Linked DNA regions of Homo sapiens: regions 1, 2 and 4 are each linked to region 3. The links come from fine-mapping of genetic effects on gene expression. Tissue or cell type: whole blood. Region 3 holds a variant in brackets; each other region holds the start of a gene. Each region is shown on its reference strand, or each on the opposite one.

What was found. PIP is the estimated chance that this variant, and not a neighbour inherited with it, causes the effect. A credible set is the group of variants that fine-mapping cannot tell apart.
Region 1: CAMP starts here. The variant in region 3 is the best candidate, but not a certain one, in a credible set for the expression of CAMP in whole blood (TOPMed, PIP 0.69).
Region 2: it holds the start of LTF, and the variant in region 3 is fine-mapped to the expression of LTF in whole blood (TOPMed, PIP 0.97).
Region 4: it holds the start of LCN2, and the variant in region 3 is fine-mapped to the expression of LCN2 in whole blood (TOPMed, PIP 0.97).

The regions. Positions count from the first base shown.
Region 1 is chr3:48,219,242-48,227,249 of GRCh38, reverse strand. CAMP (cathelicidin antimicrobial peptide) reads right to left here and starts at 3,755. Exons shown (of 4, transcript NM_004345.5): 1 at 3,538-3,755; 2 at 2,789-2,896; 3 at 2,576-2,647; 4 at 1,765-1,957. The coding sequence starts at 3,738. The coding sequence ends at 1,826. RefSeq lists a silencer at 3,777-4,071 and enhancers at 4,081-4,130, 4,141-4,270, 4,291-4,410.
Region 2 is chr3:46,461,051-46,469,058 of GRCh38, reverse strand. It overlaps LTF (lactotransferrin), which reads left to right and starts at 4,154. Exons shown (of 17, transcript NM_002343.6): 1 at 4,154-4,234. The coding sequence starts at 4,192.
Region 3 is chr6:159,087,589-159,095,596 of GRCh38, reverse strand. The region is part of intron 3 of LOC112267968; the gene reads left to right. Among named protein-coding and RNA genes, the nearest start is that of TAGAP, 47 kb to the right of the region's middle. RefSeq lists an enhancer at 765-894. The variant G/A (reference allele first, on the strand shown) is at 4,369.
Region 4 is chr9:128,146,333-128,151,332 of GRCh38, reverse strand. LCN2 (lipocalin 2) reads right to left here and starts at 1,880. Exons shown (of 7, transcript NM_005564.5): 1 at 1,670-1,880; 2 at 959-1,095. The coding sequence starts at 1,807. RefSeq lists a silencer at 481-530 and an enhancer at 4,660-5,000.

The DNA.
Region 1 (8,008 bases), not on the chromosome of region 3:
GTGTATTTGGGAAGCAACTACAGAAAGCACCTGCAGGAGTGTAGAGAAGTGAGACAGGGAACGAACAAGTCAGAAGAGGATGTGGTCATGAACAGGTCTTTGTTGAGGGTAGCCCACCTGGGGACCTCTGGGAGATGTGAAACACACCTCTGAGTGTGCCCCCCACGGGTGAGAAGAACAAATATTTTTCCACCAGCTCCCACCTATCATTGGTTGAGGCTGCTCCCTGGCGCATAGACTTCCCAGTACTTCCAGTTGAGCAACCCCATAGCAAAAAGCTGCAGGTGCTTCTAGTGGCTACAGAATGGTGAGTGGGGAGAACACGATCCATGTCTGAAACACCAGCACAACAGAGTCGCGACCTGTGTGTCACACTCTGCATGTCTCTTCTAGCCACAGCACCTCACTCCACTGAGCAGGATTCTCCTTTTTTTGTTTGTTTGCTTGTTTTAGAGACGAGGTCTCACTCCTTTGCCCAGGCTGGAGTGAACTAGCATGATCATAGCTCACTGCAGCCTTGAACTCCTGGGCTCAAGTGACCCTCCCACCTGAGCCTCCCAAGTACCTGGGATTACAGGTGTGCACCACCACACCCAACATATTCTTGGTCTTTGGTTTTTATTTTATTTTATTTTATTTTTTTGAGATGGAGTTTCGCTCTTGTTGCCCAGCTGGAGTGCAGTGGCACGATCTTGGCTCACCACAACCTCCGCCTCCTGTTCAGGCGATTCTCCTGCCTCAGCCTTTCCAAGTAGCTGGGATTACAGGCATGTGCCACCATGCCTGGCTAATTTTTGCCACTTTAGTAGAGACAGGGTTTCTCCATGTTGGTCAGGCTGGTCTCAAACTCCCAACCTCAGGTGATCAACCAGCCTCAGCCTCCTAAAGTGCTGGGATTACAGGCATGAGCCACCACGCCTGGCAGGTTTTTGGTTTTTATGAGCCCAGTCACCTTTGTTTCACCCTGTCACCCAGGCTGGAGTGCAGTGGCGCAATCTCAGCTCACTGCAACCTCTGCCTTCCAGGCTCAAGCAATCCTCCCACCTCAGCCTCCCGAGTAGCTGGGACTACAGGCACGCACCACCATGCCCAGCTCATTTTTGTATTTTTAGTAGAGACAGGGTTTGTTATGTTGCCCAGGCTGGTCTCAAACTCTTGACCTCAAGCAATCCACCCGCCTCGCTTCCCAAAGTCCTGGCATTACAGGTGTGAGCCACCACGTCTGGCCATATTCTTGTTTTTAACAATCCCTAAACACAAGCTCACAAGTTAAATCTGCTACCCACCTGAAGAAACTGTGATGTGTCCCAATGCCAGAGGAAATGCCAGGAGTTATGGGCTTTCCTGAGTTAAGTCTTTTAGGAAGCATTGGAATTTTATGGGAATTGTACCTGCAGGGAGACCGCACCCAGTTGGCCAGCCACCCATGGGACTGGACCATGCTTCTCTGAGTGTTAACAACACGCTTGGCCCCTCCCTTGAATGTCACCTCCCCATGAGCAGGAACAGCTCCACAGCATTCCCCCACCACCACACACAGAGTAGAGCTCCTTAATTCCCCACTGGGGGTTCCACTGAGAATGGGAATGCCATCTTGGATCTCTTGGCCCTACTGCCTTACCCTGTGTCCTCCTGGATGGAACACTGCCCTCGCCACCTCTGTGTCACACTCACACACACTCACACTCACACGTGGACTCCCTGAGCTAAGGGCTCAGTTGTGGTGAGAGAGAGGAGGCAAAACAAGTGAGACTGAAGCCTGAGGAAATTGCTCTCATAGTTTATTTCTCAGAGCCCAGAAGCCTGAGCCAGGGTAGGGCACACACTAGGACTCTGTCCTGGGTACAAGATTCCGCAAAAAATCCTTGATTCTCTGGACAATTCTTTTAAACTCTTTGCCAATCTTCTCTTTAGATTTCCGGAAGAAATCACCCAGCAGGGCAAATCTCTTGTTATCCTGGGGTTGTGTACAGGAAGAAACAGGTTCCTTGTCGGGGATGTACCCAGGGTCAATCCAAGACCCCTCCCCACCTAGACGCCCCTCTTCGTGGGCCCCCGCAGGAGCTTTGGGGCCCCAGTTCAACCTCTGGCTGTGACCTTTGAAGCATGTGATTGAATCCCTACACCCAATAAAAAGATGAGAAAACAGAGTCCCGGAGATAGTGAGGGGCTCTGCAGGGTCACACAGCCCAGCCCAGCAACACTGAGATGGGAACACAGGGCTGAGAGCTGAGTACTCTTAGACAGTGGCTCTCAAACTTTACAGAAGCCGGAATCTCCTGGAAAGCTTATCAAAATACGAATTTCTGGGCCCTACCCAGAGTCTGTCTGAGTAGGTCTGAGTAGGGCCTGAGAATTTGCATATCTAACGAGTCCCCAGGAAGGGCTACACTTGGAGATCTACCGCTCTAAGGGATTCCAGAGCCGGCCCTGGAGATGGAACTCAGGTTTGGGGAAGAGCCCTGGGTAGGAGGGGCTTTCTCTGTCCTGGGTTGGGGGAGTAGTTAATTGACCCATTGGATGGTCCACACTCTATGCCCCCATCAGCCCCTGCATCCCAGAACAGCCCACTCACCTTATCACAACTGATGTCAAAGGAGCCCCTGGCCTGGTTGAGGGTCACTGTCCCCATACACCGCTTCACCAGCTGGAAAGGAGAAGCTCAAGGTCAAACTTGAAACCATTTGCCATGACCTCCCAGCCACATCCCAGTGGGAAATATTCCCCAGGTGCCCCCTGTTCAGCTCCTTGGGAGGCACCCACCAACACCCCCAGCCCCCAGCCTCACCCCGTCCTTCTTGAAGTCACAATCCTCTGGTGACTGCTGTGTCGTCCTGGGGCACACTGTCTCCTTCACTGTGAAGCTCACAGGCTTTGGCGTGTCTGGGTCCCCATCCTAGTCAGAGGAGGAAATGGGGAGGCCCATTCTTGTATTTTCTGATTTGTGTCCATGACCTCCCCACCAAGAGGGCAGGCTTTCCACAGTACCTGATGTGCGACGGGCACTGGGTGCTGGGCTTGGCACTGGGGCATTGAGGGGAGGAGGACTGAGCCATTCCTACCCTCCTAGGTGAACAGTGAGTAGGAGCAGACCTCAGATGAGCTCTAACAAGGAGCCCCTCCCACTCTGGGGTGGGGGCAAGGGAAGTCAGGGGGCTTCCTGGGGGACAAGACATGCCCACTGGAACCTAAAGTCTGGATAGAGTTCTTCCCTATGTGGGGTAACGTGGTACAGAAGAGACTTAAAGCAGAGGAGGTCACTGCCCAGAGCCAATGACCCCATTCTAGTGCCTGGAGCTCGCAGAAGTCCCAAAACCTGCGTGGGGTCGGGGTGAGGGTATCTCTGCCACAGCAGGAATTATAAGGCAGGAAGCTCTCGAGCTGGGAGGAGACACGAGCTCTAGAAGGTTCCCTGGAAAACACGGGACCACATTTAAAGGGGGAGATGCCCTCCTGGCAGGCAGTGCAGCAGGAGCAGAAGGAACAACACGTGGCCAAGCCCAGCCAGAGCAGAGCAGAATGTCCCCCAAAGCTCACCATCGTGGGCCTGGGGTCCAGGTCCAGGAGGCGGTAGAGGTTAGCATCCGAGGACCGCTGGTTGATGCCATCTATAGCACGAAGCACAGCTTCCTTGTAGCTGAGGACCTGGGCAATGATGGCCAGAGGCATCACCAGGCCCAGCAGCAGGAGCACCAGTGACCACCGCCCCAGGGAGTGGCCATCCCTTTGGGTCTTCATGGTCCCCATGTCTGCCTCCCTCTAGCCCACAGGAGCCTCCTTTATGCCCAGCCTGAGCCTGATGCAAAAGCCCAACCAGGAGCCTTCCTGATCCACCCATCCCTGGCTGCCTGCCAGGGTGTGGGCTGGGGTTTGCTTTAGCCCCTGGCTATTGCTTCACAGGACTTGCTGGGCAGTGAGTGAGGCCTTCCTTGTGTGCAAGATGAGGAAGTGGTTTCTTCATCTCTGACAACCTCCCAGACCTGACCGGAGATTGTCATAGCCAGGGGTGCTCAAGAGCGTTAAATCCCTCCAGAGAGGAAGAGAGCCAGGTGCCTATTCTACATCCTTCTACTCCTCAGGAGTCAGTATGATGGACTGCTAAATCTCCAGCTCTAGGCATTGCCTGGCACCCTGTAGGCATCGATTAAGAATTGATGAATGAGGCAGGGCACGGTGGCTCACGCCTATAATCCCAGCACTTTGGGAGGCCAAGGTGGGCGGATCACCTGAGATAAGGAGTTCGAGACAAGCTTGGCCAACATGGTGAAACCCCATCTCTACTAAAAATATGAAAATTAGCCACGCATGATGGCTCACACCTGTAGTCCCAGCTACAAGCTGAGGCATGAGAATCACTTGAACCCATTGAACCCGGGAAGCAGAAGTTGCAGTTAGCTGAGATCATGCCACTGCACTCCAGCCTGGGTAACAGAGTGAGACTCAGTATGAAAAAAAAAAAAAAGAACTGGTAAATGAAGACAGTAGCCACCCCCAACCTAGAGACTCACTCTTGCAAGGGACAAGTTGCCCTTTCAGTTCAAGGCCATACCACATGCTCTCTGGACCCAGCCGTCAGCCAGACGAAGGCTCTGCTCCATCTATCCCCTTCTGCATCCTTCTTCACTGTTTTTTTCAGTCTCAAAATGTTCCCAAGCCCCTCCAGACATGGCCTTTCACCATGGCTTCTCCCAAGCCAAGTCTTAGGAAAGGTTGTCTACGCTTCTTGACCCCATCTTTTCACTCTTCTTCATGCTGAAGGCCACTGAAGGCTGGCCAACCCACCCTTGGTCCATGGCCACCCTCAAGCCTGGTCTTTGTCTGCACAGGCACTGGTGAGCCTTCCTTCTTGCTGCCCCGGTCTCCCCTGATGCCACTCTCCTGCTGTCCCTCCTGCCTCCCTGGTGGCTCCTTCTTGGTCTCCCCTAAGGGCTGTCTTCTTAATATTGAGAGCGTGTGGGGTCACCTCCTGGGCTGCTTCTCTTCCCTGGCCTCGGGTTTCCCTGGGGACGCCCTCTCCCAGGACACCAGTTATAATAGGCAGACACCACCCAGTCTGTATCTCTGAGTTCGAGACTCCCATGAACGTCCCGGTTGTCCCCACTGGGCCTCCTTGACTGCTCTTCTGCTGAGTGCCCACTGCATGAGCCCTGAAGCACCTTTGGCTCCTTCCTCCCGAAAGCACTCCCCTCTGGCCTCTCCTTCCACCCCTGCCTGGCTCCTGCCGCCATCTTCTCTCCCATGCAATGCTGCCCCAGCCTCCAGACTCCACCTTCTCTAGGTTTCAGGCTCTCCCCAGACCACAGTCCACCCTCCACACCGTTGTCCAGGGGTTCCTTTAAACCACCAATTTGGCCATTTCAACCCTCTACCTTCAGGAGCCCACACACCCCCTAGGCTGGCATCAGGGCCTGTGGCCTTTTGGTTCCCACTGCCCTCACCCCAGCCCTGCACACTGCAAGTGCCAGACTGTCACGTATGCCCCCATCACATAGGCTCATCTGAGCCTCCTGCTCTTTCTCCCAGCTCTGCCCCGATCCTTCTGTTTGGCCTGCCCTTTCACCTCATGAAGCTTTCCCTGACCTCCAACCAGGCACAGCAATCTCCTCTTTGCCCCTACATCTTCCAGGAAGTCTCTCCTGATTCGACCTCAAATTACTCCCTGTTTGGTGCTCTAGCTGAGACACCAAGCTGGGATGGGTGGCTGGTGTTGGGAGAGGGAGAGATCACAGCCAGGAGAGATAAAGGGCCAAAGTGATAGAGGGGTCCAGCGTCCATGAGGCAAATTCCGGTCCCAGCTCCTCTGTGGACTGGCCATGTGGCCCTGAGGCCTGGGGTACCTCTTGACCTCAGTTGGCCTGTGGGACACTTGGGGGCTTGGACAGCAGGGCTCCTGGAAGGTGGAAGCCTGGACGAAGGCCACCGGTTGCACACCTGGCCTTGAGAGAAGGAAGAAGTGGGCTTCTGTGCAACCTGGTTTCACAGTTCAAGTGTTGCCCCAGTGGCCTGTTGGTCAAGCAGGGCTTGCACATCAGGTCTTTTATGGCTGTTGGGAAAAGGGCCATCCAGGGATATCAGACCTCTCAGGGCTCTCCTGCTTCCTCCACCCTTCTGACTGGCTTCAGGATCCCCAAGAAGCCAAACCGGGGAGAAGCAGATGGCAATGTTAGTCCTTAGGCTAGGGCGTGAGAGCTGCATGCTCCTGTGTTCCTCTAGGTCAGATCTGGCATATTCAGAGCCCCTTTCCAACTGCCTCAAGAGGACGTTCCACTTCGGCCAGTGCTGGACACGCCCTCACATGAAATCAGCCAGAGCCCAAGCAGCTTGCATAGGCCCTCTGATACAACTGCAGAAGTCTGGACTCAGGGGCACTTGCTTTCCCTCTCAGGGCCATCGCACAAGGTCCAGGCTTCCCAGGTTCCAGGAGTGAGTCCTGCCCTCGGCACATGCAGGTCGGTGTCCACTACCTGAGGTAGGGCGGCTGACTTCAGACCTTTAGAACCCATGGCTGCCCCTTCCTCCTAGAGAGGGAGAAAGGAGGCTCTCACCAGCTCGCCTTTTTCATAATGGCTCACCCCATTAATAGAGTGATCAGAAGATTCTAGGCAAGGCGGAATGAGAAAAGAAAAGTGAGGCTTAGCCGGGCGCGGTGGCTCACGCCCGTAATCCCAGCACTTTGGAAGGCCGAGGTGGCCTGATCATGAGGTCAGGAGATTGAGACCATCCTGGCTAACACAGTGAAACCCCGTCTCTAGCTGGGTGTGGTGGCATGCGCCTGTAGTCCCAGCTACTTGGGAGGCTGAGGCAGGAGAATGGTGTGAACCCAGGAGGCGGAGCTTGCAGTGAGCTGAGATGGCGCCACTGCACTCCAGCCTGGGCAAGAGTGTAAGACTCCGTCTCAAAAAAAAAAAAAAAGTTAGGCTTTTCCACATCAAGACTTGAGGGCTAGATAAATGTCCCTTCACAAAGGCCTGGGCAGCCCCTGTCCCTCTGTCTCTCTATCTCTCTCTCTTTCCTCTCTCTCTCTGAATCTCCCACCCTGACTTCTCTAAGTGGCCCCTTCCTCTCCTGCAGACCCAGGAGGCTCCAACTCCTACACAATGTGATCAGGGAACCTGGTGCACTGGGACTGCTGAAGGCTCTGAGAGACTTTCCACAGATGAGCAGATGCTGGAGCTACCCTCTCCCACTCCACAATCCCTCCCCCATTGGCGAACAAAGCCCAGCTTAGCCCCCACTCTGCGTTCCCTCTCTGGCTCCGTGTCTGCAGCCCTGGTTGTCCTGGTGGAAGCACCCACCTCCTCAGGCCTGCTTGCCCCTGAGACAGCCTTCATCAGAATGGCCAACTTGTCTGAAAAGTAGAGAACCAAGCAGGCAGTTTGTTCATCCCCTTGGGGAGCACTGGGGAGGGAGTCCTGGGATGGGAATCCCAGGAACCATATTCGTCACCAGCCTCTGTCTCTGTGGGTGAGTCACTGTCCCTGTCCCTCCCTGTGCCCAGAATCTATAGTCAGCACAGAAAGCCCAGGGCTTTGCAGGCAAAGAGCCCAGGTTCCCTCATGAGGCTGACTGGGTTCCTGGCTCAGCCCTGCTGCGACCAGCTGTGTATCTGCATACCGATGTGTCTGCTCTCCTGCCTCCTCATCTGTAGAACAGGGATGATCATCACAATGTCTAGTTTGTAGAATTGTTGTGAGGGTCAAATACAACATGGTCTGTGGCCAGTACATGTGAATTGTTTTTGTTGTTATTAATGTGACCTGTTAGGTTAATGCTTCAGAAGTAAACATAGTGTGCTCCCAGAGATAGTAACTTTGTTGGCCAAGCATGGTGCTTCAGGACAGGAGTTCGAGACCAGCCTGGGCAACAGAGCGAGGCCCTGTCTCTACAAAAAAATTTTAAAATTAGCTGGGCATGGTGGTGTGCACCTGTGGTCCCAGCTACTTGGGAGGCTAAGGTGGGAGGATTGCTTGAGCCCAGAAGATGGAGGCTACCGTGAGCTGTGATCATG
Region 2 (8,008 bases), not on the chromosome of region 3:
TTATCCTATTTCTCTGCTAGGGATGGCACAGCCACCCATACACAAACACACCCACACTAATGTGGACACTGCATGCCACCAATGATGAACGTAGGCAGCTGTGTGCTGGTCAACTGGCCCTCTGGGGGTGTGGAAGGAGGAAGCCCTGATTTAGAGCATTTGCTAATTCCATGGCATAAATACATCGACTATGCCTGATATCAAGCTGCCATCAGTTAACCCACCCCAAATCCCTAAATGTTTAACAAGTGGTTCTCAAGTCAGCAATCTCTCACCACTGGCAGGGAAAAGATACAGGGCCCAAGGTCTCCCATCTGCCAAGCTATTGTCCAAGCGTGAGTTGATGTCTCAGGAAGGCCTTTTCTGCCTTATCCCACCTGAAGCCAGTTCTACTCAGATCTCACACTTCCTTCCCAACACTCTTCTTGGGGTTTGAAGCTAGAGGCTCATAGAGGGCAGGGTGTGAGGTTTACTGGCTTGCAGGGAGGACTTAGGTTGGCCAGAGACTGTTGCCTGCTAATGGGGCTTGGGCCTGCAATTCTGTAAAGGCTCCCTGGAGGAGTTTTGAGGGTGGGGGCAGAGCAGGGTTAGGGGGAAGGGAGTCAGCCTCACACATCTGCCTGTTGAACACTAGCTCTTGCCACTGCATGGCAGTTTCCACAGCAGCTACCTTCTTTGTGCTCCTTAAACTCATGTTACTGTCTCAGCATTTGGAAACCTGCATTCTGCTTCCCTGCAGGCTCTTTGAGATCTGACCCAACTCCTGGCACGTTGGAGATGTCCCATAGACCAGTGTTGAATGAATGGGTAAGTTAATGAGTCCATGTACACAGGCTTTGGCATGGCCTGGCTTAGGCAGCCCTGACCCTCACTATCCTTCAGACCCAACACATTACAAACAGGATCCTTTGTCCCTTTCTTAGCCTGTTCCTCTTCCTCATTTATTCATTCCTTCAACCGATATTGATCATCAAGTGCCTATAACATGCACAGAGCTAACTGGCCAAAGGATTTGAGGGTGCCTCTGCGGCTCTTTGGTGGGTTTGGTGGAAAGCGGTAGGAAATATGAGAAAAGGTTCAGGGTTGGAGGGACTGGGTGAGTTGCATTTTCGATGCATTAAATTTAGGCGCCTTCAGGACCTGCAAGAGTACCTTTCCAGAGGCAGATGAACACATGATGTGGAGCTCAGGATAGAGGAGGAGGATTTTGTTAATCCTTCTTCCAACAAGAGTTCCAAGCCATGGCTGGGTGCAATGGTTTATGCCTGTAATTCCAGCACTTTGGGAGGCCAAGGTGGGAGGATCGCTTGGGCCCAGGAGGTCAAGGCTGCAGTGAGCTGTGATTGCACCACCACTGCATACCAGCCTAGGTGACAGAGGGAGACCCTGTCGGTAAAAAAAAAAAAAAAAAAAAGAAAAGAAAAGAAAAGAAAAAAAGAATTCCTGGCCAGAAAGCCAGAGGGAACTTTTGTTGTCCCTAGTGCTCAGGTAATTGGTCACTGGGTTCATGCTCCCAAGCCTTTACTTGTTTGGTTGTTTACTTTACAGAATGCTCTACCTGTAGAAATCCCACCCTTCCTTCAGGTACCCAGGCTAAATCTTCCTGGAGTTCTTCTGGAGCCCTCATGATGGGTGCTGGTCATTCCTCCTCTGGGCCCTCACACTCACTTGCTTTATGCTGCTTGGCCTCTTCTTAGGGAGCCTCTGTGATAGAAGTGCATTCCTGTGACTGTCCCTCCCCCATAGTGCTGTGAGCTCCTGAGGGCAAGGACAGACCCCTCTTCTCTGTCTCTCATGGCATCTACCAGTTCTGGCATGAATGAATGAATGAATGAATGAATGAATGCTGTTAATAGATCAGTGAAACTTCATTGTTTTTTGGGGCAGACTCATCCCCTACATCAGCCTCCTCTGCAAATGGCCTTGAGGGGCTGCTCTGCCTGTGTCCAGATGCTCACATCCCTGCCCTGGGGCTGGGCTGTTCCAACAGGCACAGCAGGAAAACAGTCTGCCCTGTTGCCTACCCATGCTGCCTTCAGGGCACTCCTTAAGCTGAGCCTCTTGGTAGTGGCCCCAGGTTCTCTGTGTTCTTGCCAACACTGTAACATACTTAAGAGGGCCCAGGGCCCTCTGACCTCCCAGTCATCCTTTTTTAAAATTTGGACTCAGAAAAAGAGACACGGGTTATGATGTTTCTTAATTCTTTTATAATGATGAAAAGGCAAAGTCTTGTTGCCAATTTAGGTACAAAGATGCTTCAGCACTCCTGGGAATTAGTCAATTTTGTATTTCTTCAGTATTTTTGAAAGAACTTATTGCAATTATTGATGATGGCAACTTTAAATGGTGCAATATCATGTTTCCAAACAATGAGAGACCTTGGATCTGTCACCCCAAAACCCAGCTGGTGATTCTAGCACCAAATCTCAGACCCCAGTCTCATGGCAGGCAAGCATGATCCCTGATTAGCCTCCACCCTGTGCCTTGGCAGGATCATGCCCAGAAATGGAGGGGCTCCCCAGCCTCCTTAATGGCCTCTCCACCTTGGGCTGAGCCTGCTTCTCCATGGCTAGGTGCCCACTGCATGCTCACTCTTGGCAGAGCTGGCTCCCTGGGGCATTGCCTATCTGCTCCAGGAAATGCTTTTTAGTACCAAGTAGTCTAAGCAGAGTCAAGACCAGCTTTTCAGAATAAGCAGATTTCAGAGTCACATATTGGTCAGACTCACCTGCCAAGAAAGGTGTTCAGGTGACCTATTATTTCCCTCACTGTTAGTACCTTTTTTCTTCACTTAGTTACCCTTTTTTTTTTTGGTGGGGGTTACAGAGTCTTACTCTATTGCCCAGGCTGCAGTGCAGTGACATGATCATGGCTCACTGCCACCTTCATCTCCCAGGCTCAAATGGTCCTCCCACTTTAGCCTCCCAAGTAGCTGGGACCATAGGCATACACCACCATGCTGGGCTAATTTTTGTATTTTTTGTAGAGATGGGGGTTTCCCTATGTTGCCCAGGCTAGTCTTGAACTCCTGGGCTCAAGCGATCCTCCCATCTTGGCCTCCCAAAGTGCTGGGATTACAGGCATGAGCCACTGTGCCCTGCCTAGTTACTCTTGGGCTAAGTTCACATCCATACACACAGGATATTCTTTCTGAGGCCCCCAATGTGTCCCACAGGCACCATGCTGTATGTGACACTCCCCTAGAGATGGATGTTTAGTTTGCTTCCAACTGATTAATGGCATGCAGTGGTGCCTGGAAACATTTGTACCTGGGGTGCTGTGTGTCATGGGAATGTATTTACGAGATGTATTCTTAGAAGCAGTATTCTAGCTTTTGAATTTTAAAATCTGACATTTATGGCGATTGTTAAAATGAGGTTACCATTTCCTACTGAATACTATCAACACCAAAAAAGAAGAAGGAGGAGATGGAGAAAAAAAAGACAAAAAAAAAAAAAAGTGGTAGGGCATCTTAGCCATAGGGCATCTTTCTCATTGGCAAATAAGAACATGGAACCAGCCTTGGGTGGTGGCCATTCCCCTCTGAGGTCCCTGTCTGTTTTCTGGGAGCTGTATTGTGGGTCTCAGCAGGGCAGGGAGATACCCCATGGGCAGCTTGCCTGAGACTCTGGGCAGCCTCTCTTTTCTCTGTCAGCTGTCCCTAGGCTGCTGCTGGGGGTGGTCGGGTCATCTTTTCAACTCTCAGCTCACTGCTGAGCCAAGGTGAAAGCAAATCCACCTGCCCTAACTGGCTCCTAGGCACCTTCAAGGTCATCTGCTGAAGAAGATAGCAGTCTCACAGGTCAAGGCGATCTTCAAGTAAAGACCCTCTGCTCTGTGTCCTGCCCTCTAGAAGGCACTGAGACCAGAGCTGGGACAGGGCTCAGGGGGCTGCGACTCCTAGGGGCTTGCAGACTAGTGGGAGAGAAAGAACATCGCAGCAGCCAGGCAGAACCAGGACAGGTGAGGTGCAGGCTGGCTTTCCTCTCGCAGCGCGGTGTGGAGTCCTGTCCTGCCTCAGGGCTTTTCGGAGCCTGGATCCTCAAGGAACAAGTAGACCTGGCCGCGGGGAGTGGGGAGGGAAGGGGTGTCTATTGGGCAACAGGGCGGGGCAAAGCCCTGAATAAAGGGGCGCAGGGCAGGCGCAAGTGGCAGAGCCTTCGTTTGCCAAGTCGCCTCCAGACCGCAGACATGAAACTTGTCTTCCTCGTCCTGCTGTTCCTCGGGGCCCTCGGTGAGTGCAGGTGCCTGGGGGCGCGAGCCGCCTGATGGGCGTCTCCTGCGCCCTGTCTGCTAGGCGCTTTGGTCCCTGTGTCCGGTTGGCTGGGCGCGGGGTCTCTGCGCCCCGCGGTCCCAGCGCCTACAGCCGGGAGGCGGCCCGGACGCGGGGCCAGTCTCTTTCCCACATGGGGAGGAACAGGAGCTGGGCTCCTCAAGCCGGATCGGGGCACGCCTAGCTCTGCTCAGAGCTTCTCAAAAGGCCTCCCAGGCCCCTGTCCCTTTGTGTCCCGCCTAAGGATTTGGTCCCCATTGTATTGTGACATGCGTTTTACCTGGGAGGAAAGTGAGGCTCAGAGAGGGTGAGCGACTAGCTCAAGGACCCTAGTCCAGATCCTAGCTCCTGCGAGGACTGTGAGACCCCAGCAAGACCGAGCCTTTATGAGACTTAGTTTCTTCACTTAAAGAAACGGCCTAACCATGGGTCCACAGGGTTGTGAGGAGGAGATGGGGCATTCGCACACCTTCCGTGGCAGAGGGTTGTGGAGGGGTGCGGTGCTCCTGATGGAACCCTGTGTCAGAGGGTTTGAGAGGGAAATGTCAGCCAAACAGAAGGAAGGAGTAGAAGGAAGGAAACAATTGTCAGTTCCATAACCAAAGTAATTTCTCGGGTGCTCAGAGGGCACTCCCCAGCGCTGCACATTAGTGACCTAAATGCGTGAGTGCGGAGCTCCCTGCAGCACCGGGAGGGGAAGGTCCCAGGCCGCAGCAGAAAGGGCTGTGATGGGCATCAGGACCTAGGCAGTGGGAGGGGCACAGTGAAAGCCCAGGTGTCACACCTCCCCAGCCCAGTGCAGCCTCCACTTGTCTTACGGCATCTACCTAAGGCTGGGAGCTTCCTGGATGGAAGAGGTGGCGGTGGATAGAGAGCAGCAGTGGGAGCCCAAACCCATCCTTGTCCCTGCCCTTCTGGTCTCCTGCTCCAAATTCCTTCCCATGGGTGTTGGTCATCCTTCTCTTCTCTAAGACAGATTGGGACTGGCCAGGACCCGACTGTTCTCTTCCCCTCAAGCTCCCTGGCGAGTGGCCTGTTGCACAGGGTTAGGGCCACCTGGGAGGGGCAGGAGAGGAAGGAAGCCTTGCCTTCCTGGAAGTGGTCATGGGCTGTGGTCCAGGATTCTGGCTCAGAGTTGCACCACTGGGTTTTATATTCACTTGGATCTTTAGTTGTTTTGGCGCCTACTGAGGTCTGAAGTTTGAATCCTGCAGTCAATTGGGATGGTGGCTTGTACCCCAAAGTGCCATTGCAACCCTTGTCCTTCCTGAGGAAAGGGTGGCAGTTGCCCTGTGGAATTCCTGCCCTGCTCCCCGTGGGTGTCCAGGCTGACAGAAGTTGGGTGAGTGGGGCCAGCTGGATCTAAGCCGTGTGAGCATTGGGTGGAGGAGTCTGTCTGCTTAGCCCTGGAGCCATGGGCTGGGAGGCACTCATGAGGTTTCCCATCAGTCTGAGCAGTCTGCTTGGGCCCTATCATGAGCTGTGTGGGTAGGTGGGGAGAGTAACTCCTGTCCTGGCCCCTGCCTTGGAGGCCAGCGCACTGCATGTCTGCCCAGAATGTGTGTTTTGGCCAGTGTCCAGCCAGGTCCAGTGGGCAGCATCTGAGTGCCTGACACTGAATACAAGTGTGGGGTTGAAGATTTTGGAGGGGCCAGACCTAGACCTGCTTCAGGGGGTCACATAGCTCCAGAGCTGGGAGGTAAGAGCTTGTGGGTCACACAGCTCCAGAGCTGGGAGGTAAGAGCGTGGAGACTTCACCTGGTGTTTGGGGGGCTGGGGACTGGGAATCCTGGAAGGGAGCTCAGCGGTCCTTTAGTCACTCTGGTTCAGCTCCTCTTAGGGGAAGAAATGAACTCTGCCCACAGGTTCCCGTCATTGCTCAGCCCCCACCTCCGGCTTGAGGCATGGTCTTCCATTTTACTCTCTCCCTTCACCCCCAGAACCCACCCATTACCAAGCTGATTTCTGATACCAGCTCCCTGCCCCCTTCTCTGTTCTCAGTGCTGTCCCCTCTCTCCACTCAGACTAGCCCTTCCCTGGTGCCTTCGTTGGCCACAGCTTCTCTGCCTGTTCCCAGGTCTCAGTTCACTCTGCCCCTGCCCTAGGGAGAGTCTCCCGTGAGTCACAGCTTCACTGCATCCTGAATAAGACCTCCCTGGATCAGCATTGGAGACTTTCCAGGATCTGACCCAGACCCTTTTCTAGCCCCATCTCCAACCTGTCTCTAACTTTGCCAACCTAAATAGGCAGGCTAGCCCAGTGGTAAGAGTAGGGGAGTTTAGTGCCTGACTGCTTAGGTTGGAGTCCTAGATCCAACACTTACTTATTAGCTATGGGAACTTCCACAAGCCACATAACTAGTTAAAGCCATAGCTCCCTCCCCTGGAGAATGGAGAGGTTGGCAGAATTCACAATACAGAGGAGCTGTGGCAACTAATGGAGACACGTATGTCTCCATTAGCTGGTATTTGTTTGGTATTTGTTCTCTTTTAACACATCCACCATTCTTAGCTTCCTCTTTTTGGATTTTTGCCTCTCCAGTGAGAAGTGAAATCTGGTCCTGTCCGCTTACACATTCCTTGCGTGACACACAGTGCTGTTTGTACAGCAGGCATCCAGTTAATGCTCACTGGGTCACAAATGGCTGCATCTGATTGGGTTAATTCTCAGTGTGGGATAGTTCTATAAAGGCTTCCAAGGCAAGATTATATTCCCTGGGATTTCCCCGGGATGAGGGTGGATGAAGGGGGAGTATGGCAGCTAGGTGTCCCCAAACCTCTGCAGACTCAGCCAGGGAGCTACAGGCCTCTTGCCCACCCAAGGGCCATGGGTGGCTCTCGCCATAAGGGGATGGCTCAGAAACAGGAGACAGCAGAGGCTGAACATTCTACCCCATAGCACATCCAAAGGGCAGAGGGCTTTTACAACTGTGTGTTTATTTTGTTTTTTTGTTTGTTTGTTTTTTGTTTTAGTTTTTGGTAACAGCTTTACTGAGGTACATTTTCCATATCATAAAAAATCACCTATTTGCGTACAATTCAATGAGTTTCAGTAACCTTACCGAGTGTGCAACTATCACCATAAATCTGTTTTAGAACACTTTTATCCCCCCCAGTAAAGGTCCCTCATGCCTGTTTATAGTTAATCCTCATTTCTACCCCAGCATCAGACAACCACTAATCTATTTTCTTGTCTCCATAAATTTGCCTTTTCTGGACATTTCATTCAAATGGAATCATACAGCATGTGGTCTCTTGTGTCTGGCTTCCTTCACTGAGCATAACTGAGGCTCGTTCATGTTGTGGGGCATGCCAGTAGTTCTTTTCACTGCTGAGTAATATTCCATTGAATGGATGTACATTCACCAGTTATTGGACATTTAGGTTGTTTCCAGTTTTCTACTATTCTAAATAACACTGCTATGAATATTCATGCACAAGCATTTATGTATGATAGGTTCTTATAATATTTCTTCTGGCTATATGCCTAGAAGTGCAATTGTTGGGTCCTATTGGAACTCTGTGCTTCACATTTTGAGAAGCTGCCAACCTGTTTTACAAAGTGGCTGGTCATTTTACATTCTCAGCAATGTATGAGGGTTTCCACTTCTCCACATCCTCATCGATATGTGTCATTGTCTGTTTTAGCTATTATAACCTGTTCAGTGGCTGTGAAATGATATTTCGTTGCATTTTCAATTTGCATTTTTGACTAATGATATTGAGCACTTTTCAT
Region 3 (8,008 bases):
CAGCCTGCACAGGCTTAGGTGGCTCCGTCCTTCTTCCCTGTTCTTTGACAAGCAAAGCACCCAGAGGCTGAATCCCTGGGACAACATCACACAGGTAGTGGGTAGAAAACTAGGACAAGAAAAGTAAAGAAAATCCATCATTTAAAAAAAAAAAGCCCTATGCAAACTTGACTTTTTGGTTTGACTAAAAGTGAATAATGTGTTTATAGCAATAAAGTTGAAATCAGAAATTGAGAAAGTCGATAACTGAGTTAACATGACCTGCACCATTTTTCTCTTTGGGAAGCTCTGCAATGAACACCTCCTCAATGTGTGCATTAGAGCAGCCTCTGGACTGGAGCCACAACTCCCAGGACGTGGTATATTTTTCACAAAGAAACCTACAGGCCCAAGGAACATGTGACAACCTTCTAAAAATCCCACACTAGTTTAAAAACAAAAACAAAAAAACGAGGGATAAACACAGACATTAGGCAAATAGAACATATCAGAGAAATAGTGGGGTCCCCTGGGGGAAGTGTTGATGTCCCTGGTCAGAGTCAATATAGGGAGGAAACCCAGAGCCATGGGCCATATTTGGCACTGCTGGTGCTGACTACGGAGGGGCCTGGGGCCCCGGGGTGATGCCTGTAACATTATTTCTGTTTTGTAGGAAGGAAGAGCATTTACATATTTTTATACTTCCATTTAATTTCCCTTGAAAAGCTCTATTTTAAGCTTTGGGGGAAATGTGCCACATTTTAAAGAGCTTCCCACACCTACCCACCGTGATTATTTTTTTAGGTGCTTGGAGATTTCAAAGAATTCAAAACCCATCTGGCATCCTCCCCCCGTATCCCAGCCCGGGATATGTTGTTTTCAGAGACCTGAGAAAGCCCCGGGGAGGCACAAACAGCAGCTGGGGAAATCCTGCCACGGCTCAGAACGCACACTTGTCACAGTCTCCGCGAGCGCCCCAGCTGAGCTCCTGAGCCAGGCTCTGGGCCGCGGGCTGGTACCCAGGGCACTCACAGGTGTGTGGCCTGAACCACCCCTCACTTTGCATTCAGGAACTCCCCGAGTCGCCCCTCTAAACAGACTCAGCATGCTCACCAGCAGTCAGGAGGCAGGGAGTCAGGGGTCACCAGCAGCCAGGAGGACAGGGTCAGTGCGGGGTGTTGGGGAAACGCACAGAGTTGACATGGAAGGTTAGCGTCAAACACACCACCAAGCCCTGGCCACGGCGGCCTGGCTAGAGGCACACACGGGCCACCGCGCCCGGAGATCTCGCTAGGCCTGGCCACGTGGCTTCCCACTGGGCACAGGGCACTAGCTGCGGCAGGGAACTGAACACTCACTGGGGTGCTTAGGTAGGATGACGATCCCAGGAACCCTTCCCCGCCCCTTCCCTAAGAATGAGGGTGGCGGCACTCTCGAAGGAGAGGGATTAGATGTGCACACACCCTATGAACCGCCTTCGCCCTCAAAGAGACCAGCTCCTTCTTGCCTCTGCGCCTCCGCCCGCGCTGCTCCGACCACCTGGGAGGCTGTGCCCCCTCCTCCTGAGCCAGCTCTTCTCCATGCTGGGGGACATGGCCCCGGGAAACTGGATCAAAGCGCAGACTCTGGAACCCAGGCGGGGGTTGAATCTCCTCTCCGCCATTTACCAACTGTGACTAAGCTCTATGTGTCTCTGTCTTCTCGTCTGTAGAGATAAAAATAGCATCTTCCTCACAGGATGGATTGGGGTGGGGATTGAAAGAATAACTACAAGATCAGAGTTTAGAACCGGCTGGCACGTGTGTGCAGTGTTTCCTATGAAGTAGAGTCGCTTTCTGATGTGCTTTCCAAGAAGGGTTGAGGCCCCACCCACTCACAAAAAGAGAAGACCAGAGAAGAGATCTCAGTCTCCTCCACCAGCCTGAAATGAATCTCAATCACTTATTAGCTAATGGCTCCCGGCACACAGAGGGTCTGCTCCACTCAAGCCGTTTTGCCATACTCTGGAGTCAGAGTCCAAGCTCTCAGAGAGTTTATAATGTAGCAGAAAGGTTTAAAATCCACCAGCCTCGACTGGGCGCGGTGGCTCACGCCTGTAATCCCAGCACTTTGGGAGGTAGAGGCGGGCAGATCACCTGAGGTCAGGAGTTCAAGACCAACCTGGCCAACATGGTGAAACCCCATCTCTACTAAAAATACAAAAATTAGCCAGGCGTGTGTGGCGGGCGCCTGTAATCCCAGCTACTCGGGAGGCTGAGGCCGGAGAATGGCTTGAACCCAGGAGGTGGAGGTTCAGCGAGCTGAGATCCAGCCATAGCACTCCAACCTGGGTGACAGAGCGAGACTCCGTCTCAAAAAAAAAATTAATTAATTAATTAATTTTTAAAAAATCTGCCAGCCTTCATGGACAAAGGGAAGGAATCATGATTGACTCTTTACTTTGTGTGGTGTTTTGGTTTTGTTGAATTCAAAGAGTGAGACTCATGTGTTTGGGAAATTTATTTAATTTTTCTATTTTTAGTATAATCTTCAGCTGTAAGTTTTCAAGATATACTTGGTACCATATTCCAATATGTGTAATGAGGAACTATCTTAAAGAAGTTTTACTGTTTTTTATAGGACTAGATACCTGATTTTTAAAGCCTTGTGAATTATGACCACATGGTTGTTTTCAGATCTGTGCAATTAGGTTCAGCGAATAAACGTCCAGGAGAGCCTTGGCAATCCATTGACAAGAACAGCACAGCCAGTGACTCCACAGGCGAAGGGAAGTGTTTTCAGTTGTGTTTTACTATAAACAGTATGACATACAAAGGCATATTTCATAACTTGCCCAAGTGGTTTTGAAATATTCTTTTCCATTGAGGCAATAGCCATTCACAATTGATAATAACCACCCCCAGGACCGGCTACACAATCTGTAAGACAGTGCCCTTTTTTCAAAGAGTAATAGGAATTTTAAGACAGCAGGAGCAGAACGATAAACCAACCACAGGGGTCTCCAAGCCTGGGGACCCAGGGGCTGCACAGGTCACCTGTTCATGGAGCTGGCCCTGGCTGCCCCCTGTGATGGATTTAATATATTTTAAATCATCAGACATATTTAAGGAACATCCAAGCTTAAGACCTTTACTGGATATATTTACCAGCATTTACCTATATTTAATAACATTCACTTTGCTCCACAAAAGATCTTATTTCTTTGCCAAAAATCATGTTTTGGAATAAAATAGACACAACTTCAACATTATTTTTTAAAATAAAAGTTGCAAAAGTACATCTCCCACATCTTCTGTGAATTTAAATAAATCGCTTTATTTGTTTTAGGCTGAAAGTGTAAATTCAGTGTGAATTTCATGCCATGCTCTCATTCACTTGTGGACATAACCTGCCTTTCTCATTTCACAAAGGCTGAACTATCCAACAACCTGATTTTTGAAGAATTTAGGGTAACACTGGCCTCACAGAATAAGTCTGGAAGTAGTCCCTCCTCCTCTGTTTTTCAGAATAGTTTGAGTGGGAATGGTATTAGTTCTTCTTTAAATGTTTGATAGAATTCAGCAGTGAAGCCATCAGGTCCTGGCCTTTTCTTTACTGGCCGACTTTTGATTATGGCCTCCATCTCATTACTTGTTATTGGTCTATTCAGGTTTTGGATTTCTTCCTGGTTCAATCTTGGTAGGTTGTGTGTATCTAGGAATTTGTCCATTTCTTCTAGATTTTCCAATTTATCAACGTATAGTTGCTCATAGTGGCCACTAATGATCCTTTCAATTTCTGCAGTATCAGTTGTAAAGTCTCCTTTTTCATTTCTGATTTTATTTATTTGGATCTTCTCTTTTTTTCTTAGTCTGGCTAAAGTTTGTCAGTTTTGTTTAACTTTTCAAAAAAACCATCTTTTGACTTCATTGATCTTTTGTATTTTTTTCATTTCAATTTCATTTATTTCTGCTGTCAGCTTTATTATTTCTCTTCTTCTACTAATTTTGGGTTCATTTGCTCTTGCTTTTCTAGTTCTTTAAGATGTATCGTTATATTACTTATCTGAGGTTTTTCCTCCTTTTTGATGTAGGCACTTAGTAGCTATAATCTTCCCTGTTAGTACTGCTTTTGCTGTATTCCATAGGTTGTGGTATACTGTCAGGCACTACTCTAGGTACTTGGGATAAAATAGAAAAGGAGTCCTGCTCTTGTGGAACTTATGTGCCAGCCAGGGGAGGTAGAAAATAGATGAGAAACATAGTAAATGATCTAGTCTGTTAGAAGGTGGTACGTGCCATGGGGGGAAAGGAGAGTTGGGCAAGGGGAATTGGCAATTCACAGCAAGAGAGTGGTTAGTTGCAATATTGGAGTGGCCTATGTGGGCCTCATTGCAAAAGGGAGTTTTGA[G/A]CAAAAATATGGAGTTGGCCAAGCAGATATCCAGAGGAAGAGCATTCATGGCAGAGGAAACAGCAAGAGCAGAAGGCCAGAGAGTGGAGCGTGCCAAGCACATCGGGGAATTGCAGGCGGGCCTGCAGGGATGGAGGGGAGGGAGCAAGAGCAGGAGGACAGAGGAGGAGGTCAGCAGGTGGCGGGCGGCAGATCAAACAGAGTTTCATGGGCCTTGGCAGGGCTTTGGCTTGTTTTCCTTGCTGAGTGAGATGGAAAGCCATTGAAAAAAATGACAGCAGAGTAATAATATGATCTCACTTCTGTGTTAAAAGATTCGGTCTGGCTGCTTTGCTGAAAATAGTGTAGGGCTCAGGGAGATGCCAGGGGTAGGAAGAAGGGGAAGTGTTAGAAGATGACTGCAGAAAATCCAGGCATGGGATGATGGTGGCTCAGACTGGAGAAACTGCAGCTGAGGCGGTAAGACGGGACTGGATTCTTAGTTCATTTTGAAGGTGAGACCAACCTGCCAAATTGGAGGTGGGGCTTTCTCCCCTTTTGGGAAAAATCAAAGAGGACTGAAATTCCCTGGCCTGGAATTCACATCTTGATGTATTTAGTAGCCAACAGCAGCTCTGTGAAGTTGGTATCACTTCTTCATCGCACCTTGCATGCTTGCCCAAGTCACAGAGTTATAATATAATAAAGGATGAAGTTGCCGTCCACTGAGATGAGAAAGGGTGGAGTGAAGCAGGTTCTGGACCTGTGAGATCAGCAGTTCAGTGTTGGACGTGTGGGCTCGAGATGCTGTTAGACGTCTGAAGGAAAATGGTGGGAGGCAGTTGGATATTGGAGTCGCCCATATTAGTTTTCTATTGCTGGACAAGTTTGCTCCAAGATTTGGCAGCTTACAACAAGGATCATTTATTAACCCACAGTTTCTGTGGGTTGGGTTTCTGAGAGCCATGTAGCTGAGTGGTTCTGGTTTAGAACTGCAGTCAAGGTGTTAGACAGGGCTGCAGTCCTGTCTAACAGGTAGTCTAGTAGGTAATGAGGATGACCTCATTACCTCATTTGAAGGCGAGTTTGAGGAAGGATCAGCTTCCAAGTTCACTCACACAGGTGGTGCAGGTCTTGGAAGATCCACTTCCACGCCCACTTGTGTGGCTGTTAATAAACCTCAGATCCTCATCCTGTGAACCTCACATGGCCCCTGGCTTACCCCAGAATGAGTGAGCCGAAAGAGAATGAGAGAGTACCCAACATAAAAACCACAGTAGTTTTATAACCTCATCTTGGAAATGACATCCCATCATTTCTGCCATCATCTACTCACTAGAACCAGTCAACAAGGGTTGGTGGACATATTTTTTAAAACCATCTCATTGACATACAGATTATATTTAAAGCCCTGAGTGTAATGAGAAATGAAAAGGGGACCAAGGACCATATCTTGGATACTTCAACATTAAAAGGTTGGGGAGAAGAGGAGAAATCATCAAAGGAGGCCAAGAATGAGAGGCTTGCGAGTGGGAGGACAATCATGAGACTGTGGCATTTTGGAACCAAGTAAAGAAAGTGCATCAAGGAGGAGAGAGTGAGCAACTTCAGCAAATGCTGCTGTGGGATAGGGTTAGTCGTTTATACTGGCTTGCCCAGGAAGGTCCCAGCTCACATCTGCTTTCGTCCTGGTGTTATTACTTATCAGGCTCCCTTTTGCTCTCAAAAGGAGGCAGATTTGACAAAGAATCTTATGGACATCCCATACCCAAGTCAAGTAATGTGAGCACTGAGATTTGGGGATTGGATCAGGCATCATAGAGGTCACTGGTGATAATGAGCGATCAGTGTCTAATTGTGTCTTACTGTGGGACATACATCAGCATACCTTTGCATTCAAAATACTTTTCCTACTAAAAGCTATTACAGAGCTAAGTAAACTATTAGCTAATATTAGTGTAAGTATAACATAAAATATCAAATTAAAGTAAGATTTTAAAAAACATAAGCTCAATTCATTCACTAAATTTTAACTCTTCTCAATCACTATTTAATGTAATTACAGATGATGTGAAAGTTTGAGTACATCTAAGTTCATTTTATGGAGCTGAGTGTGGTGGCTCACACCTGCAATCCCAGCACTTTGGGAGGCCAAGGCGGGCAGATCACTTGAGGTCAGGAGTTCGAGACCAGCCTGGCCAACATGGTGAAACCCCATCTCTACTAAAAAATATGAAAATTAGCCAGGCATGGTGGCGCACGCCTGTAATCCCAGCTATTTAGGAGGCTGAGGATTGAACCCGGGAGGCGGAGGTTGCAGTGAGCTGAGATCATGCCACTGCACTCCAGCCAGGACAACAGAGCAATATTTTGTCTCAAAAATAAATAAATAAACAAATTCATTTTATGAGTTACTTATTTTGAAAAAAATTGTCACAATTGCAATGCTATAAAATTGTTTTCAAAACAAAATAATTTGGCAAACAGGCAAAAAGAACATCTTTAATAATGATCCAAGTTGATAAAATAGAAACAGACATAACAAGATTCATATTTATTCCTAATTATTCACGAAACGTTTTACATGTGATAAAATGTATAAAAGCTCTCATCATGGCTTGTTCCCTGGTGTCATAAACATCCAAATGTCCATGGCTGTCCTGAATCTTGTCTTCCCCGCTGGACACTTATGAAGGATGACCTCATTACCACCCATCTCCACTTAGCCTATGCCAAATTTTAATACCAAGGTCGATCATTCCTATGGCCCAGGCACCAGGTTTATCGCTTCATACGTCTTGATGTATTTAGTAGCCAACAGCAGCTCTGTGAAGTTGGTATCTCTTCTTCATCGCACCTTGCATGCCTGCCCAAGTCCCAGAGTTATAATACTCCCTCACGGTATGTTGCCATTTGTCAAGTGACAACTTACTTAGATGAATTATTAAACTTTGTTTAAAAAATTCTGGCTTATTTTTGACATCTTAAGGAAGTAGAAAGCTGATGTTAACTTTCATTTTACATATTATTTAACAATTTTTTTCTTGAGATTGTTGGCTTCATGGAAAAAGTCACCTCCATCCACAGGAACAGTAGATTACATTTAAAATATTTTTTTCTTATTTGTACAAATGTATGGGGTACATGTGAAATTTTGTTACATGTATATAATGTATACTGATCAAGTCAGGGTATTTAGGATATCCATCACCCACGTACAATACATTTTTGTTTAACCATACTCATCCTGCTCTGCTACCAAACAATGAATTTAGGCCCAGTACGGTGGCTCAAGCCTATAATCCCAACACTTTGGGAGGCCAGGGTGGGAGGATTGCTTGTGCCCAGGAGTTTAAGGCCAGCCTAGACAACTCAGCGAGATCCCATCTCTAATTTTTTAAATTATTTTTTACAAATTGAATTTATTTCTATCTAATTGTATGTGTGTTCTTTAACCCAGTTCTCTTCATCCTCACCCCTTTACCCCAATCACCCTTCCCATCTCTGTTCTCTCTTTCCACTTTCTACCACCATGTGATCAGATATTTCAGCTCTCACATCTAAGTGGGAGAACATGAGATATTTGTCTTTTTATGCTTGGCTTATTTCACTTACAATAATGACCTCCAGTTCCAGGTACATTGCTGCAAATGACTTGATT
Region 4 (5,000 bases), not on the chromosome of region 3:
CCCCCCGCCACCCAACACACAGAAACCCTGCATTTCTCCCCTGCACTCAGCTTGCTGCTTCCCTTCCTATACCCTCTCCCGGGGATCCACCTCGGTACTTCCAGTCTGCTCCATGCCAGCCGTTCCCCTAGCTCTCGGGTCAAACCTGACCCCATCCTTGAGTCCTCCCACTTCCCATCCCCTGGCACCCCAGGGCTGAGCTCCCCAACCTGTCTGTATTCTGCTCCTTGCTCCACAAATGCCCCAATCCCAATCCACTCAGCTGCCAGAGTCAGAAACCCACTGGGGGCGGCTGATCCCTGGCTCCCTGCCTCTTCACCCTGCGCCTGTTCTCTCACACCTGTGACGGCCCCGCTTCACTTTCGCTGGTCTCCCGACCCCCTAGGCTGCACCCCACCAAGTCTCCCCACCCTGCGGCCCAAGAGCCCTGCTCTAAGCCACTCCGCAGCAGATCCGCTGGGGCGGGGCCTGAGGACCGTGCTAGGTGCTAGCGTGGCCACCTGCCCCTCCAGGCTGCTCAGCAGCTCTGCTCAGGGTGACCCTGCGATGGCTTGCTCCTTCCTGAAGGGGGGGCTCTCTCTGACTCCAGCCCCTGCCGGGAACACCCCACATTTCCTTTTGAAGCAGGTTGGCTCTTTTAAGGCCACCTCCCTGGAAGCCTTCCATGAAGGCACTGGGTGGGGTTCCAGGCTGGATCCAGTGTCCCCTCCTCCCGCTCCCAGGCACCCCTCCTCTCTCCGTCTTGTTTTCTAACGACTGTGCATGTCCATCCCCACCACTGTCTGTGTGTCTGCATGGAAATGTGCTATAAACGTTGCTCTAAGGAACAGAGGAAGGATGAACACAGATGAATTCCGGGCAGAACAGCGAGGTGAACGACAGGATCCCTCAGCTTTGGCCATCCCTTGCCTGTGACGTCAGTCTGACTCTCACACCCCCAGGAGATGTCGGCCCTCACCTAAACAGGACGGAGGTGACATTGTAGCTCTTGTCTTCTTTCAGCTCATAGATGGTGGCATACATCTTTTGCGGGTCTTTGTCTTCTCTGAGAATTGCATTCCCTGCCAGGCCTACCACATACCACTTCCCCTGGAACTGCAAGGGACTGATAAGAGGCACAACCCAGGAATGGCCCTAGGAGCCACCCCTCCAGCTCTGTCCCTGTGGCACCTCTGGGCCGCCCAGCTTGGAACCATGAGCCCCTCTAGCTGGGCAGCAGGGCCCAGGCTGGGCCTGCACTGGTGAAGGGGCAGGAGCAGGAGGCCATCAGTCCAGAAGGGAGTCCTGGGGGAAGAGGCGGTTCTGAGTCTGGCAGGGAGGAGGGTGACCTCCTCACTGGAGGAGGCATGTGGCTGGTGGGCCTTCCTGAGCCTCAGTTTCCTCATCTGTGCAGGGGGACTAAAAGTGCTCCCACCTTCTTTGGACAATGGGGGTTATGGGAGAGGGGATGTGGACCTGGGGGAGTCTGTTCAGGCTGAGAGGGGGTGGGGATGGGGGGAAGGGGCATGGTTTCCACCAGGGGACCCTGGTGGCACAGAGTGAGCTGAAACCTGGACCCTGGACTCCTAGAGTCCTGCCCAACGCTCTTCCTGAGTCTCTTCACCTCTCCTCCCCTCTGCTCCCACTCTTCCCCAGGCCCTGCCTGCAGGTGCCCCTCTTGGCCCCTTACTTGGTTGTCCTGGAAGTTCTGCTGCAGAGGGACCTTGCTCAGAGGTGGGGCTGGGATCAGGTCTGAGGTGGAGTCCTGGGCCTGGGCATGCAGAGCCCCCAACAGGGCTAGGCCCAGCCACAGGAGACCTAGGGGCATGATTTCAGGGCCGAGGAAGCAGGCGCTGTGGTGGCTGCTGGGCCTGGCAGGGGTGGAAGAGGAGGTGGCGAGTGAGAGGCTCACCTGGGTGGCCCTATTTATGGGATCTAGGGTGGGTTGATTCATTCTTTGCCAAGGCCAGGAATGTGAGGCAATTGCCAGCAACTCCTGCGGAAACACTTGGCAAGATTTCTGCACCTGGTCAGGATTGGGCAAGACAGAGGGACGGGGAGAGTGAGGGACATTCCCGGAGTGCTGCACCTCTGGCAGGGACAACGACTCCCTCTGTGCCTTCCTTGTGCTGTTTCTTTCTTCTGATTGCCCTGTATGTGGGCCGGTGGCCTGTGAGCCGGAAGAGCTGTCATCTCTGACCCCCCTGCTCAGCTGGATCCCAGGGTGGGGTATGTGCCCTGTGGTCCCCTCCCCACACCCACAGAAAGGAAAGAATGAATGCCTCCTTCCAACAGATCATGTGCTGTTTCCTGGTTCTTTTAAGGGTCAGGGAAGGGTGGGGTGGCTGACAGTGGACAAGGAAAAACAAGGCGTCTGCTCTGAACTCATGGAGCCCAGAATCATGGCCCTCCCAGGAGCCCCAGTCCAGGACCTGCATGTGCTCCAGGGGCCTTGAGACAGCCCCTTGCCCCTCTCCTTGCCCCATTTGCAGGAGGGGACCCCAGTGGACCCCTGAGGGACCCTTCCTCTCCTGTGAGTGCAGTGGGAAGAGACCCCACACAGGGCACATGGGTTGAGTGCTGAGGCTACAGTCCCTGTCCTGGGTGAGTTGGGCTGATGTGTGGGGGCGTGAAGGCGCCACACTGCTGCTCTGGACACCTGTTGCTTTGGGTCACTGACAGTGCAAGGATCTGGCCTTATCCTTGAGGTCACTGAGACCATCCCCCTGACTCTAGTCACAGCCTTTTTCCATTGAACCCAGCAGCCCAGGCCAGGGGTTCTGGAACTGTCACCGAGATGGCTGGTCCCAGCCTTGTCCAGCAGGGAAGCAGTTATCTCAACGGGGGCCTGGCTGGCATCCTCGGGAGGCAGCGATGGATCGTAGGCCCTGTGCAGTGTCCGCAGAGATGGCTCACCCATGAGGGCTGAGGCCGTCCTGGATGCCTGACCTGAGGCTGGACTGAGGGTTCGCTGGTTTTAGAGCTTTCAATGGGACTAACGGGGACCTCACTGGCTCTGCCTACGTGCTGCTTGGGATCCCCAATCTGGGCTTGGGGGCAGCAGGGCCTCAGGGAAGGGGCTCTGGGAGTCCTGAGCTGGGGTTAGTCTAGAGAGGCACCCACTGGATCCCTGCCCCCTCAGGCCCTGTCCTGCCTGCCCGATTGGATGATGAAAGGGCAGGAAGCAAAGATGAGTAAAACTGCAGGGGAACGATGTTGCACCAAAGCCTTCCCTTTCTAGAGGTAGCCAGTGGCTACTCGCTCCCTCCGAACCCCCTCTTCCCCTCATGACCCTGTTCCCAGGAACTCCACCTCTGCTACTGTCTTTGACCTTAAAAAGTATCCTCTGCCAGGCCGGGTGCGGTGGCTCACATCTGTAATCCCAGCATTTGGGAGGCTGAGGCGGGTGGATCACGAGGTCAGGAGTTCGAGACCAGTCTGGCCAACACGGTGAAACCCCATCTCTACTAAAAATACAAAAATTAGCAGGGCATGGTGGCAGGCGCCTGTAATCCCAGCTACTCGGGAGGCTGAGGCAGAAGAACAGCTTGAACCTGGGAGGCGGAGGTTGCAGTGAGCCGAGATCACGCCTTTGCACTTTAGCCTGGAACAGAGCGATATTCTGTCTTAAAAAAAAAAAAAAAAAGGTATCCTCGGCTGGGCGCAGTGGCTCTCGCCTGTAACTCCAGCACTTTGGGAGACTGAGGCGGGTGGATAACCTGAGGTCAGGTGTTCAAGACCAGCCTGACCAACATGGTGAAACCCTGTCTCTAGTAAAAATACAAAGATTAGTTGGGCATGGTGGCGCATGCCTGTAATCCCAACTACTCGGGAAGCTGAGGCAGAAGAATTGCTTGAACCTGGGAGGCGGAGGTTGCAGTGAGCCAAGGTTGCGCCATTGCACTCCAGCCTGGGCGACAGAGGGAGACTCCATCTCGGGGAAAAAAAAAATGTATCCTCAGGGACTAGCCTGGCCAATATGGCAAAACCCCGTCTCTACTAAAAATACAAAAATTAGCCAGGTGGGGTGATGCATGCCTATGATCCCAACTACTCAGGAGGCTGAGGCAGGAGAATGGCTTGAACCCGGGAGGCGGAGGCTGCAGTGAGCCAAGATCGCACCACTGCACTCCAGCCTGGGAGACAGAGTGAGACCCTGTCTGAAAAAAGAAAAAAAAAACCACGTATCCTCGGGGAGGCTGAGGTGGGAGGATCACTTGGGCCCAGGAAGCCGAGGCTGCAGTGAGCTATGATTGTGCCACTGCACTCCAGCCTGGATGATAGAGTGACCTAAATCTAAAAAGTACCCTCTAGTCTACGGTGACTGCTTCACGTAGCTGAGACCAGCGGGTGGAGCCCCAGAGAATTTGAAGTTGGGGGTGAGGCAGTGTCATGGATCTCTGAGGACCCAGGACTCCAGGGTATGAATGTGGTGGGTGAGCAGGGCACTGGGTCCACAGTGGGAAGACACCAGAGCCAGGTGCAGAAGGGGAGATAGTCCCGCTTGGGGGTCCCCCAGGCTGGCTTGAAGCCTGGCTCCTCCGCATGCATGCAGATCTCTGCCTAGCTCCCACACAAATCAGGCGCTCCTCTGTAGAGAGGGCAGCTCTGCGCTTCTGTGAGGTCATGCATGGACAGCACCGGGCCCCAGGGTGTCCCTACACAAGGCTGAGTTTCTGATCAAACCCATGCAGGGCTCATTCCTCTCTCTGCACCAGCTCCAGACCTGTCTCCTACCCACTGGCCTTGGCTCTCTTCAGAGTCTAGCAGGGCTGCAGGGAGGGGGTCAGCTCTACATAGACCCACCACACAAGCTTCAGGACTCAGCACTAGGAAGGTTGGGTAAGGACTGTGGTGTAGACCTCCCATTCAGACTTGACCGACTCCAAGGGCTCCAGGGTCAACAGGACACTGGGGCCCCATTCCTCACCCACCCCCTTTCCACTGGGCCCCATTCATTGGGCCCTAGCCAATGAGGGTACACAAGTGTTCACACTGCTCAGCGCTTGGGGGAGTCCCTG